Linked DNA regions of Homo sapiens: region 1 is linked to region 2. The links come from fine-mapping of genetic effects on gene expression. A gene starts in region 2. The other region holds a variant in brackets. All regions are shown on one strand. Distances are between the middles of the regions.

The links. PIP is the estimated chance that this variant, and not a neighbour inherited with it, causes the effect. A credible set is the group of variants that fine-mapping cannot tell apart.
Region 1: its variant is the best candidate, but not a certain one, in a credible set for the expression of PIK3R5 in whole blood (TOPMed, PIP 0.70).

Annotation. Positions count from the first base shown.
Region 1 is chr17:8,881,835-8,887,193 of GRCh38, forward strand. It overlaps PIK3R5 (phosphoinositide-3-kinase regulatory subunit 5), which reads right to left. Exons shown (of 19, transcript NM_001142633.3): 12 at 5,262-5,359; 13 at 4,643-4,771; 14 at 4,395-4,488; 15 at 2,873-2,949; 16 at 1-47. LOC124903919 (a long non-coding RNA gene) reads left to right here. Exons shown (of 3, transcript XR_007065610.1): 2 at 2,732-3,349; 3 at 4,384-4,460. Among named protein-coding and RNA genes, the nearest start is that of PIK3R6, 17 kb to the left of the region's middle. RefSeq lists a silencer at 3,060-3,223. The variant T/C (reference allele first, on the strand shown) is at 2,804.
Region 2 is chr17:8,962,958-8,968,316 of GRCh38, forward strand. It overlaps PIK3R5 (phosphoinositide-3-kinase regulatory subunit 5), which reads right to left and starts at 2,750. Exons shown (of 19, transcript NM_001142633.3): 1 at 2,639-2,750. It overlaps PIK3R5-DT (PIK3R5 divergent transcript), which reads left to right and starts at 2,890. Exons shown (of 3, transcript NR_184080.1): 1 at 2,890-3,046; 2 at 3,810-4,884. RefSeq lists silencers at 2,674-2,993, 3,064-3,163.

The DNA.
Region 1 (5,359 bases), 81 kb before region 2:
CAGACCTTCTCCAGGTTGCTCCAGCGACTTCGTCCACTGATGGCCCCCTGGAAATGCAGTGTAGCCAGACCCTCTGAGTCCAGAGGCCCCGGTGCCTGCTGCCTTCTCTTTGAAGGCCCATCAGTGACAGGGGGTTGCCTCTAGTTAGCATATCCCCAGAAAGCCCTCTCTTATTCACCAGGGCCCCTGTACCACCCTGGATAGACCTGGATGACTCCAGGGAAGAGCTCACGTCACTGGCTTGGTCTAGGGGTCAGCAGCCTCTGTGACCAGGTTGAAAGGTACAAGAGCTGAGAGCACCTGCAGGGGTGGTCCTGAAGCTCTCCTGCCGGGCCCAGAGTGAAGAAGGGTTGGGCCCACAGACATGCTGTTTCTGGCAGAGCCAGACCTGAACCCCCTCTTCAAGTCTTTGTGTGAATGTCTCTGTCATCAGGGACCTCCATGTTGTTAAACCGAAGAACACTTCTTGGTCCTCAGCTTACTTGACCTTACAGTTCACTGCTCTCCCCTCCTTGAAAACCTCTCCTGGGCTTTCGTGATGGCACCTTCCTGGTTTTTCTAGCGCCTCTCTGGCTGGTGCCTCTCTGCTTTGCTGGATCGCTGCCCTCTGCCCGCCATTACATCATGAAGGGCTCAAGGTTCTCCCCTTGGTCCTCTGCTCTTTGTATTCCCTGCTTCCCCCCTTCAGGAGTCTCCTCCGTGACCTTTTTCCATTAGCAGCTGTCCACCCATCTTCATATTCACCACAAAGTCAGGCCCGTTCAGCCAGCCGTCTATTCTCACTGTCTCCTTATACCTCTCAAGGCCTCTCAACCTCAATAATATGTCCCGACCCAAACTCAAGCTCTTCCCCAACTGGACCCCGGCCTCTTCCTGTGGTCCCCCCAGAGAAGATGGTGCTGCCAGTCACAGAGGAGTGACTCCAGGAGTCTGGCCTCTCCTTTCCTAACCCATCCATGGGCCCTGCTGATTACATCACTCACATCTGTCTCCCATTCCTTTCCAGCTCTGCCACCACTACCCTAGTGCAGGCTGCTGCCCTAATTTCTCTTCTGGACCATGGCAACAGCCTCCTAACTGGCCTTCCTGCATCACTTGTGGACCCTTCCTATCTGTCCTCCACAGAGCTGCCAGAGGGAGCTTCCAAGCCTCAGATATAATCATGTCACAGGCATTCCCAGCCCCACCACAAACATAAGCCCCCTTAATGGATATCCACTGCTCTTAGGACTAGGATAAAATTCCTTTCATTGGGTCGGGCGTGGTGGCTCATGCCTGTAACCCCAGCACTTTGGGAAGCCAAGGCAGGTGGATCATGAGGTCAGGAGTTCGAGACCAGCCTGGCCAACGTGGTGAAACCCCGTCTCTACTAAAGATACAAAAAATTAGCCGGGTGTGGTGGCGGGCACCTGCTACCCAGCTACTCAGGAGGCTGAGGCAGGAGAATTGCTTGAACCAGGGAGGCGGATGTTGCAGTGAGCCAAGATTGAGCCATTGCACTCTAGCCTGAGAAACAGGGCGAGACTATGTCTCAAAAAAACAAACAAAAAACCACAAAACTCCTTTCATTGCAATTAAGGCTCTTGGTATGCTGGTCCCCCATTTCTTTAGCCTCACCTCAGCATCATGTTCCCACCAGCTGTCTCTGCTCCAGCCTGGGGGTCTTCTTTCAGAGTGCTTCAAGGTGTTCACACTGCCTCCCACCACAGGGCCTTTGCACATGCAGTTTCTGCTGCTGTGAGAGCACTCACCTCTCTTCTCAGCCTAATTAATTCCTGGTTTTCCCTCCAATATTAACTCAGGTGCCTTCTCAAGGAAGCCTTCACTACTAACTCTCCTGACTGGGTTCGGTTTGCCACTTAGGAACATCCCGTGTCCCTCTCCTCATCCATGTGTCACAGTTGTAATTTTACATCGTGTGCATCATCGAACCAATGCCTACCACCCACTCCAGGGGGCCAGCAGGTCTCCTGGGACCACGTCTGTCCTTTGTTCACTCTTAGGAAGGCTCCAGGGCCTAGAACAGTGCCTGGGCTGTGGAAGACGTCTAGCAAGCACCTGGCATGTGGCTACAGTGAGTGTCGGTGCCTCCTGCCCACCTCCTTCACTGCCAAACGCACTGCAGCCCCAACACCACCGTCCATCTGCTGTTTTATTGCTTTGTCATCACTTGCCGCTCTCTGGAATTATCTTGGCTATTTCTTTGTTTCCTCGTTTCTTGTCTGTCTCCCTCCTCTAGACAAGCTAAAGTGAGGCCTAGGCTTCCCTGCTCAACCCCTCTTTTCCCCTGCCCAGCACAGAGGCAGCATGGGCAGGTGCTAAGAGGATATCTTTGGAATGGCCGAAGGAAGAAGCCCACCTGTGAGGCCAAGCTTCCCTCAGCCTGGACCTTGGGATGCGACCTGCTCAGAGAACTCATGTCTTCTGGCATGTCATGGACAGCCCTCCACCTCCCCACAGCTCTCCTCACTCCTTTCTCACGCCAATCCCATCTTGCATGCAGCCTGCCAGGCACACTGGCCCCCCGAGACCCTGGCTTCTCCCTGAGGTGCCTCTGGAAGGCTTCCCTTTCCCCCTTTCAGCCCCAGCCCTGTAGCCAGGCCCAGCAGACCCCTACCCCTGGGCTGCTGCTGAGCGCATTCGGGTGGGGGCAGAGAACATGGTGGGAGAGAGGCTTTGGAGGCCAAGAAGCACAGAGATATCCACTCCTTCCCTTCTCTGCTTCTCTCAGCATCCAGGGGAGCCTGCTGCAGCCTTCCAGCGTAAAGACTGGGGCCCAGGAACACACGAGTCCAGCTCTGGG[T/C]CCAAGCTCTGGCGGAGGAAGTATCAGCAGCAGATCCTGGAGGGGAAGGAGCCCCAGCACGGGTCTTACCTTGCTGTAAATAATCTGTAGTGTTAGAGGAACAGCCTCCCGGTCGCCATCGATGCCCAGCCGCTTGCTGCCAGGACCTGTGCCACACACAGACAGACCCTTCACTACCCCTGGCTTCCCCGGCTCCTCACGAACGCAGTGGCCTTGCCTCCCTGGGCCTTACCTCCCCATCCCCTACCACATGGACCGTGACTCCCTAGGGATCTGTCTCACCAAGGCCCTGCCTCTCTCTCTGGCTCCACGTTCTGGGGATCTCCACCTCCTCAGTGACCCCATCACTCCAGGGCCCATCTCCGCTGTGATCACACATTCCCAGGGTCCTGCCTCTCCAGGGCCCCATCTCCGCTGTGATCACACCTTCCCAGGGTCCTGCCTCTCCAGGGCCCCATCTCCGCTGTGATCACACCTTCCCAGGGTCCTGCCTCTCCAGGGCCCCACCTCCTGGGTAACCCTGCCTCCCCAGGGCCCACCTGCTGGGTAAGCCTGCCTCCACCTGGCCCGACCTCCCATGTAACCCCCCTTCCCATGGTCCTGCCTCCCGGTAACCGTGCCTCCCCAGGGCCCTGCCTTCCAGGCAACCCCGCCTCCCCATGGCCTTGCCTCCTGGGTAACACCGCCTCCCCAGGGCCCTGCCTCGTGGGTAACTCCACCTTCCCATGGCCCTGCCTCCCGGTACCCCTGCCTCCCCAGGGCCCCACCTACCAGGCAACCCCGCCTCCCCATGGCCTCGCCTCCTGGGTAACCCCGCCCTCCCATGGCCCCACCTCCTGGGTAACCCCGCCTCCCCAGGGCCCCGCCTCCTGGGTAACTCCATCTTCCCATGGCCCTGCCTCCCGGTAACCCTGCCTCCCCAAGGCCCCACCTACCGGACAACCCCGCCTCCCCATGGCCCTGCCTCCTAGGTAACCCCGCCCCCCCATGGCCCCACCTCCTGGGTAACCCCGCCTCCCCAGGGCCCCGCCTCCCCATGGCCCTGCCTCCTAGGTAACCCCGCCCTCCCATGGCCCCACCTCCTGGGTAACCCCGCCCTCCCATGGCCCCACCTCCTGGGTAACCCCGCCCTCCCATGGCCCCGCCTCCTGGGTAACCCCGCCCTCCCATGGCCCCACCTCCTGGGTAACCCCGCCTCCCCAGGGCCCCGCCTCCTGGGTAACTCCGCCTCCCCATGGCCCTGCCTCCCGGTAACCCTGCCTCCCCAAGGCCCCACCTACCGGACAACCCCGCCTCCCCATGGCCCTGCCTCCTAGGTAACCCCGCCCTCTCATGGCCCTGCCTCCTGGGTAACCCTACCTTCCCGTGGCCCCACCTCCCGTATCCCTGCCTCCCCAGGGCCCCGCCTACCGGGTCACCCAGCCACCCCATGGCCCCACCTCCCGGTAACCCCGTCTCCCCAGGGGCCTACCTCCTGTGCAACCCCACCTTCCCATGGCCCCACCTCCCAGGTAACCCCACCTCCACAGAGCTCCACGTTTCGCGTCCCAGGCCCCGCCTCACCGTCTGTCTCTGCTCAGGCAGTACCCACCTGACGCCTTGATGGCACGTGTGGCAGCGGAGTGACCCAGCTCCAAGGAGTGGATGAAGATCTCTGTCGTCTTCTCCCCAGTGATGAAGGTCAGCTGGAGAGGGCAGGAGCATGTACATCAGTGTGAACCTCCTGGAGGGGCCCATTTGGCTCCTCCAGCATAGACCTGCTGGCTCTCCCGGGGCAGGGGTGGGGCCTTGCAGGCCCGGCAGGTGGGGAAGAGGCGGTTCGGGGCAGGGAGGCCTTACCTCGGTCTGATAGACTTGCAGCAGCACCGGTCTGGCGGCAAAGCGGCAGTAGTAGAGTAGCATGTCAGCCAGGATGGGCAGCTGGGTTGGGGAGCCCTCCAGGGCCTGGGCTTCAGCCTTCAGGGACTGCTGTGGCCAGAGGGAAGGGGCAGCCAAGCCAGATGGGTGGGTGGATAGATGGTAAGAAGGAGCAAGAATTAGGGAGGAAGAGAGAAGAGAGACATAGAGGCAGCCAGTCAGGGGGAGCTGGTGAGGTGGAAGCAGGAAGCAGGGGAGGGCCGGTGCCCAGCCTCCATGCCCCTCACCTGACCCACTGGCCTCCAGGGAGGCTTCTGGCTTAGCCAGACAAAGGCGGGAGTTGAGGAAGGGGGCTGAAATCTGAGGTCCCCCGGACCCTTCTGAGGGCCCTCCTCCATCACTGCAGTGACCCCAGCTCTCACACTCAGTGTCCTGAGTTCAGGCTCAGTCCTGCTTCTCACCCACACTCCCTGATCTTTTCCAAGAGGGCCCAGGTCCTCCATGGGGGCCTCAAGCCTGATTCCCTAAATCCAGGGCCTTCTAAGTGAGGCTGGGTGACTGCAGCCAGTGGACCCTGTTCCGCAACCACGGGGCCACTTACCTGGCACAGGACTTCAGGGGGCAGGTGCATGAGGCCCAGTACATTGCGCTCATACCAGGGGTCCAGCATGCCGAGGTAGTGGGAGATGTCATTGGTGC
Region 2 (5,359 bases):
CTTCCAGGAGCTTTCTCTGTTTTTTAAATTTTATTTTTTGTTTTTGTAAAGACAGGGTCTCACTCTGTTGCCCAGGCTGGAATGCAGTGACACGATCATAGCTCACTGCAGCCTCGAACTCCTGGCCTCAAAGCCTTGGCTTCCCAAAGTGCTGGGATTATAGGCATGAACCACTATGCCTGGCCAGCTTTCTTTCTTAACACATTGGTTCAGGCTTTTAGCTCACCAGCTGAGGCCAAACAGGCATTCTGGTTCTCAGAGGTCCCACAGGGCCACGCAGCTCAGTCCCTTGGGATGAGCATCTTTGAAGAAAGGCCAAGTCAGCACAGCTTGAGTGCTCAGTGGAACCCAAGCTGGGGCTTCCAAACTCTAGGCTACCCAGGCAAAAAGGATCCTGGCTCTCCTCCTCTCCCACTCCTCAGCCAGCAGGCCCCTGATGGATGGCTAACACAGGGGTATGGAGCAGCCTGCACCCCTGCCTTCTCATCCTCATGCCAACATCAACCCCAAATGCTCTTGTCACCCAGTGCCACCAGTTAGCATCCAACCTATTCTTCTTCTTCTTCTTCTTTTTTTTTTTTTGTTTGTCTGTTTGCTTGAGATAGGGTCTCTCTGTGTCTGCCAGGCTATAGCGCAGTGAAGCGATCATAGCTCACTGCAGCCTCGAACTCCTGGGGTCAAGCAATCCTCCCACTTAAGCTTCTCGAGTAGCTGGGCAACCTGTTATTCTTGAGGGCAATAATCAACAGTGAATGGGAGGGAGGAAAGGCAAGCAGGGAGGCAGAGACTGTCTGCTTCTACTGCAGCCTGAGGAGGGAAGATAATGAATCATCCCTCTCGTAAGCTAGAGATGAAAGGAGGGAGGTTCTTAAAACCCTAATGAGGCTCAGCACACAAAGACCCCAAGCCTTCCTGCCCTCACAGTCCTGGTTTGTGAGGCTTCAAAAAGCAGGGGAGGGAGCCCTGAAGCAAGAAAGTAGCTTGACCATCCAAAACTGTCTTCTTTGTCTTCCACGGGTCCACAGGCAAAGACCCACACCACCACAGCCACAACGAGGAAACACGGAAGCCAGCGTTCTACAAACATCCACGGAGCATCTCCCACGTGCAGCCGTTCTCATCATACATGCCTCACTTAATTTTCCACACTGGGCCAGGCACAGTGGCTCATGTCTATAATCCCAGCACTTTGGAAGGCCAAGGTAGACGGATCGCTTGAGCTCAAGGAATTTGGGACCAACCTGGGCAACATGGCAAAACCCTGCCTCTACAAAAAATACAAAAATTAGCTGGGCGCCGTGGTGCTGACCTGTAATCCCAGCTACTTGGGAGGCGGAGGCGGAGGATTGCTTGAGCCTGGGAATTTAAGGCTGCAGTGAGCCATGATCACGCCACTGCACTCCAGCCTGAGTGACAGAGCAAGACCCTGTCTCAATAATAATAATAATAATAATTCCACACAGCTCTATGGGTCAGTATGACAGCCCATTTTATGAATCAGGAGACTGAGGCTGGGTTGGGGGACAGTGTGATGCTGCAGGTCACACAGCTGGATCCGGTTGGAACTTGGGTCTCTTTTCCACATCATGCATGGTTCCCAAGCAACGGCTTCAGCATCATCACTTAAGGAGCTCATTCAAAGTTTTGAAAACTACAGATTCCAGATCCCATCCCTGGAAAGCCACGTTGTAGGGTTGGCTCCAAGAGAGCCCTACCTGCAGTCAGCTCTGGGAGCCAGTGCCTTACAGGTGGTCCTGAGGGCAGGAAGGAAAGTGTGGGGTGGATGAGAAGACACAGAAGGAAAACGAGGGTGTCAGTCCAGAGAGGACCTTGGAGGCAGGCTTGGCCTACTTTTAGCCCTTATTCTGCCTAAACCCACCCCTCCTCTCTACTCCGAGTCTTGTTAACTCGCTTTATACCACATCCTGCTGCTTTAACCTCGCCTTCCTTTTCCTTCTGAACAATCTCCTTCCTCCTACTGACCTGAACTTTTTGTGTATTTACCCCAGGCCGGGATGGGCCAGCACGCGCACATGCGCATGCCCACACACACACACACACACACACACACACGAGTCACGCGGGGATGTCCAGTGTGTAAACACAGATCCTCTGAGAGCAGAAAGCGTGCAGTTCTCTAGGACAGCAGCCGCGTCTGGGCCCAAGGCTGGCTAACTAGCAGGCTGAGTGAGGCTCGACGGAGGGCGCCTTACGCGGGCACTTCCATGACTCCCAGGTTCTGACGGCACAAGAGCCCTGATGCCCACGCTCACGGACAGTTCCCCGCTGGAGCGGGCAGGGGACCTGACCCTACGACACAGGGCGTCCTGTGTCAGAGGCAGGAGGCTGAGGACACAGCTGCGCAGAGCCGCCCAGCAGAGGTTACCCGGATAACGATAAGTGGTCCCCGCGACGCCCCTTAAGTCTCTGGGGTTATCTGGAGCGCAGGTTTGCAGACCCGCTGCCCCCGCGGTGGGCCAGGTCCACGGGGCCGGAAGATAGCAGGATCTGTCCAGCCCTCGGGCTGCGGCGGCTGCTCGCGGAGCCCACTCTCCCCGACGGTCCCCAGCTTGCTCCAGCTCTGCCTGGAGCTCCCATGCGTGCCCTCCGCATCCGCCCTGGCCGCCCAGTCACACACCTGCAGTCCCCGCCGGGCGCCGAGCCCCTCTCCAGCGGCGACTCCCTGCGATTCGGGTGACCGTCGGGACCACCGCGCCCCAGCTGGAGCCGCGCGGCGAGCCGCAGCATCTGCCCAGCCTGGGCTCCTCCGGCGGGCGGGGCGGAGCCTGTCAGGGGGCGGGGCCTAATGGGGCGGGGCTGACCGCGGAGCCGGCCTCTCCAGCCACCTGGCGGCCCGGCAGCGTCAGCCAGGTGCGCGCCCGGCCCCACATCCTCTGGGTCACGCCCCCGAGGCCGCAAGGCGTCTGAGAAGCAGCCCCGGCTCTGACCCGCCAGCCCTCGGAAGAAGCAGACCCTGGCCGGTCCATGGCAGTGGCCCGAGGGGCACCAGCGCGGAGCACCAGCGACCCCCAAGGAGTAAGGGGAGGTTAGGCCCCCGCGTCGGAAGCGCGGCTTTGGCCCCGCAGGAGGGCTGGGCGGAGCAGGGGGGCAGGTCTGGGGTAGGGGCTTAGGGGAAAGACGAGAAAGAGGAAGCTCCGACGAGCTGCTTCCTTCTCTCACTGCGACCCACTTCCTCTTCCTACTTCTATTTTCTTTCTTTTTTTTTTTTTTTTTTTTGAGATGGAGTCTCGCTCTGTCGCCAGGCTGGAGTGCAGTGGCACGATCTTGACTCCCCACAACCTCCGCCTCCCGGGTTCAAGCGATTCTCCTGCCTCAGCCTCCCGGGTAGCTGGGACTACAGGCGCGCGCCACCACGCCCAATTTTTTGTATTTTTACTAGAGACGGGGTTTCACCATGTTGGCCAGGATGGTCTCGATCTCTTGACCTCGTGATCCGCCCGCCTCGGCTTCCCAAAGTGCTGGGATTACAGGCGTGAGCCACTGCGCCCGGCCCCTACTTCTATTTTCTTTGGGTGCCCTTAACCCTTAAAATGCCTGCACTACTGCTGTGCAGACGGGCACCTTGACCCGCATCCTTCTGCAGGAACCTTCATAGAAATACCAGCCAGTCCCGGCGTTCAGCACTGCTGTTCCAGCCTCTGGCTGGACTTCCCGCCCTCCCTGGCCGGCACCAAGGCTACTGTCACCTGAGTGGTTTCCCCAGCCCCTGGGGAAGGGAGTGAGGGTGTGCGGGAGTTCCTGCCTCCAGGGTCAAGGCCCTCTTCTTGCCTCCCCCTTTTCTCCCCCAGACGACGTTGCAGATGATGCTCTACCAAGAGTTGGAAGGACTCCCCAGGGAATCCCACAAGACACTGCGCTTCCTATGCCTCCTTTCCCTCGTTTAAAAAATGGGGATAAGAAGGTTGGCTACTGCTCCGACAGCCCTCACAATGGAAGAGTAGCACTTCATTTGTGGGTTAACAAAGGGCAACGCTGAAATCTCCACTTCCACTATTGAATGGAACTGTGTCATAATATCTGTTAGAGGCGTGCAAACTCGGCCACAAGGTCATGGTCATACGTTATTGTTGGTCAAAAGCCGCAGCCCTACCTGAGGCTTTGAGAGATATGAACACCAATGACTTTTCTTTTCCTGACTCCCGAAATACCAAGAAAAAGCAACTTCCCCAAATGGACAGAAACAGAAAGTACCCTTGGTTGAACACAGAGGCCTGGTTCCAGCCATCGTTAGACGTGGGAAGGAACTCAGACCCCCTCTCCTACCTCATCCCCAACCCCTTCCCCACACGTCACCCTTTCACAGAGAAGGAACCAGAGCCACCAAGGGCTGAGAGAGGACTTGATAAGGATTCCAGTCTTCTGTCTCCCCTGTCCCCACTTTTTCCACCACAAAAATATGGACATTTGGAAGAAGAGGAGAAGAGGGAAGGTACACACTGTGCAAAGGAAGAAAATGGCAGAAATGCTCTGGAATCAGGAATTCAGGAGCAAGAATGACACTGTGTGCCAGATGGAAATGTTGGATTAGGAGAGCACTTGGAAAGGCAAATAATCTGCCAGAGAAATTATGGGATGCCTGCCTTCTGAAAATGGAGGAAAACTGCAAAAGAGTGGCTCATTGGTGCTCACTCCTAGGGCTCTGAGCATCCCAAGAAGCCAACTTGGTCCCATCGTACATCCCCTCAGAAGTAGGCATTCTCCTCTCCACCTACAGCTGTGGCCCAGATGTGGAGCCTGCATGTTATGCCACGCCGTCAACACTGAGTTCTGTCTGCGTCTCCCTGTCACAGATCTGATCAGCACCTGACACCTATCCATTCTCCATTTCCCACCTCCCCAAAGCTGCTGGAAAAACTCTGAAAGGTACCTCTGTCACTCATTAAGCATCTGATTATGTACCTCTTTCTACAACTCCTTTGTTGCTTTGTTTTAAAATCTATGGCTCTTTGAAATCACTCTCCTTCCTTTCACTGCCTAATGTTTTCAAAGAGGAGTCTACCCCTGCCTCCACTTCCTCATCTTACATTTATTCCTCAATTCTCTGAACAGAGACCACCAGGGAAACCCCAAATGTCAACTCCAATGGTTTCATTTTCTTACCTCACTACAGCATTTGGCACCACTCCTTCTTGAAAATCCCCTCCTTGGCTTCTCCTCCACCTCTCACCATGATTTCTGTTTTCTTCTTCTGGCTTCATTTCTTCATCATCTCTTAAACATTACAATGCTTGAGATTTCAGATAAGGCTGCTTCTCTTCTCCCTGGGCAATCTCATCCATTCCCATCATACTGATCCCTCCCAAACTATCGCCCAGACTTCTCTCTTGAGCTCCAGATC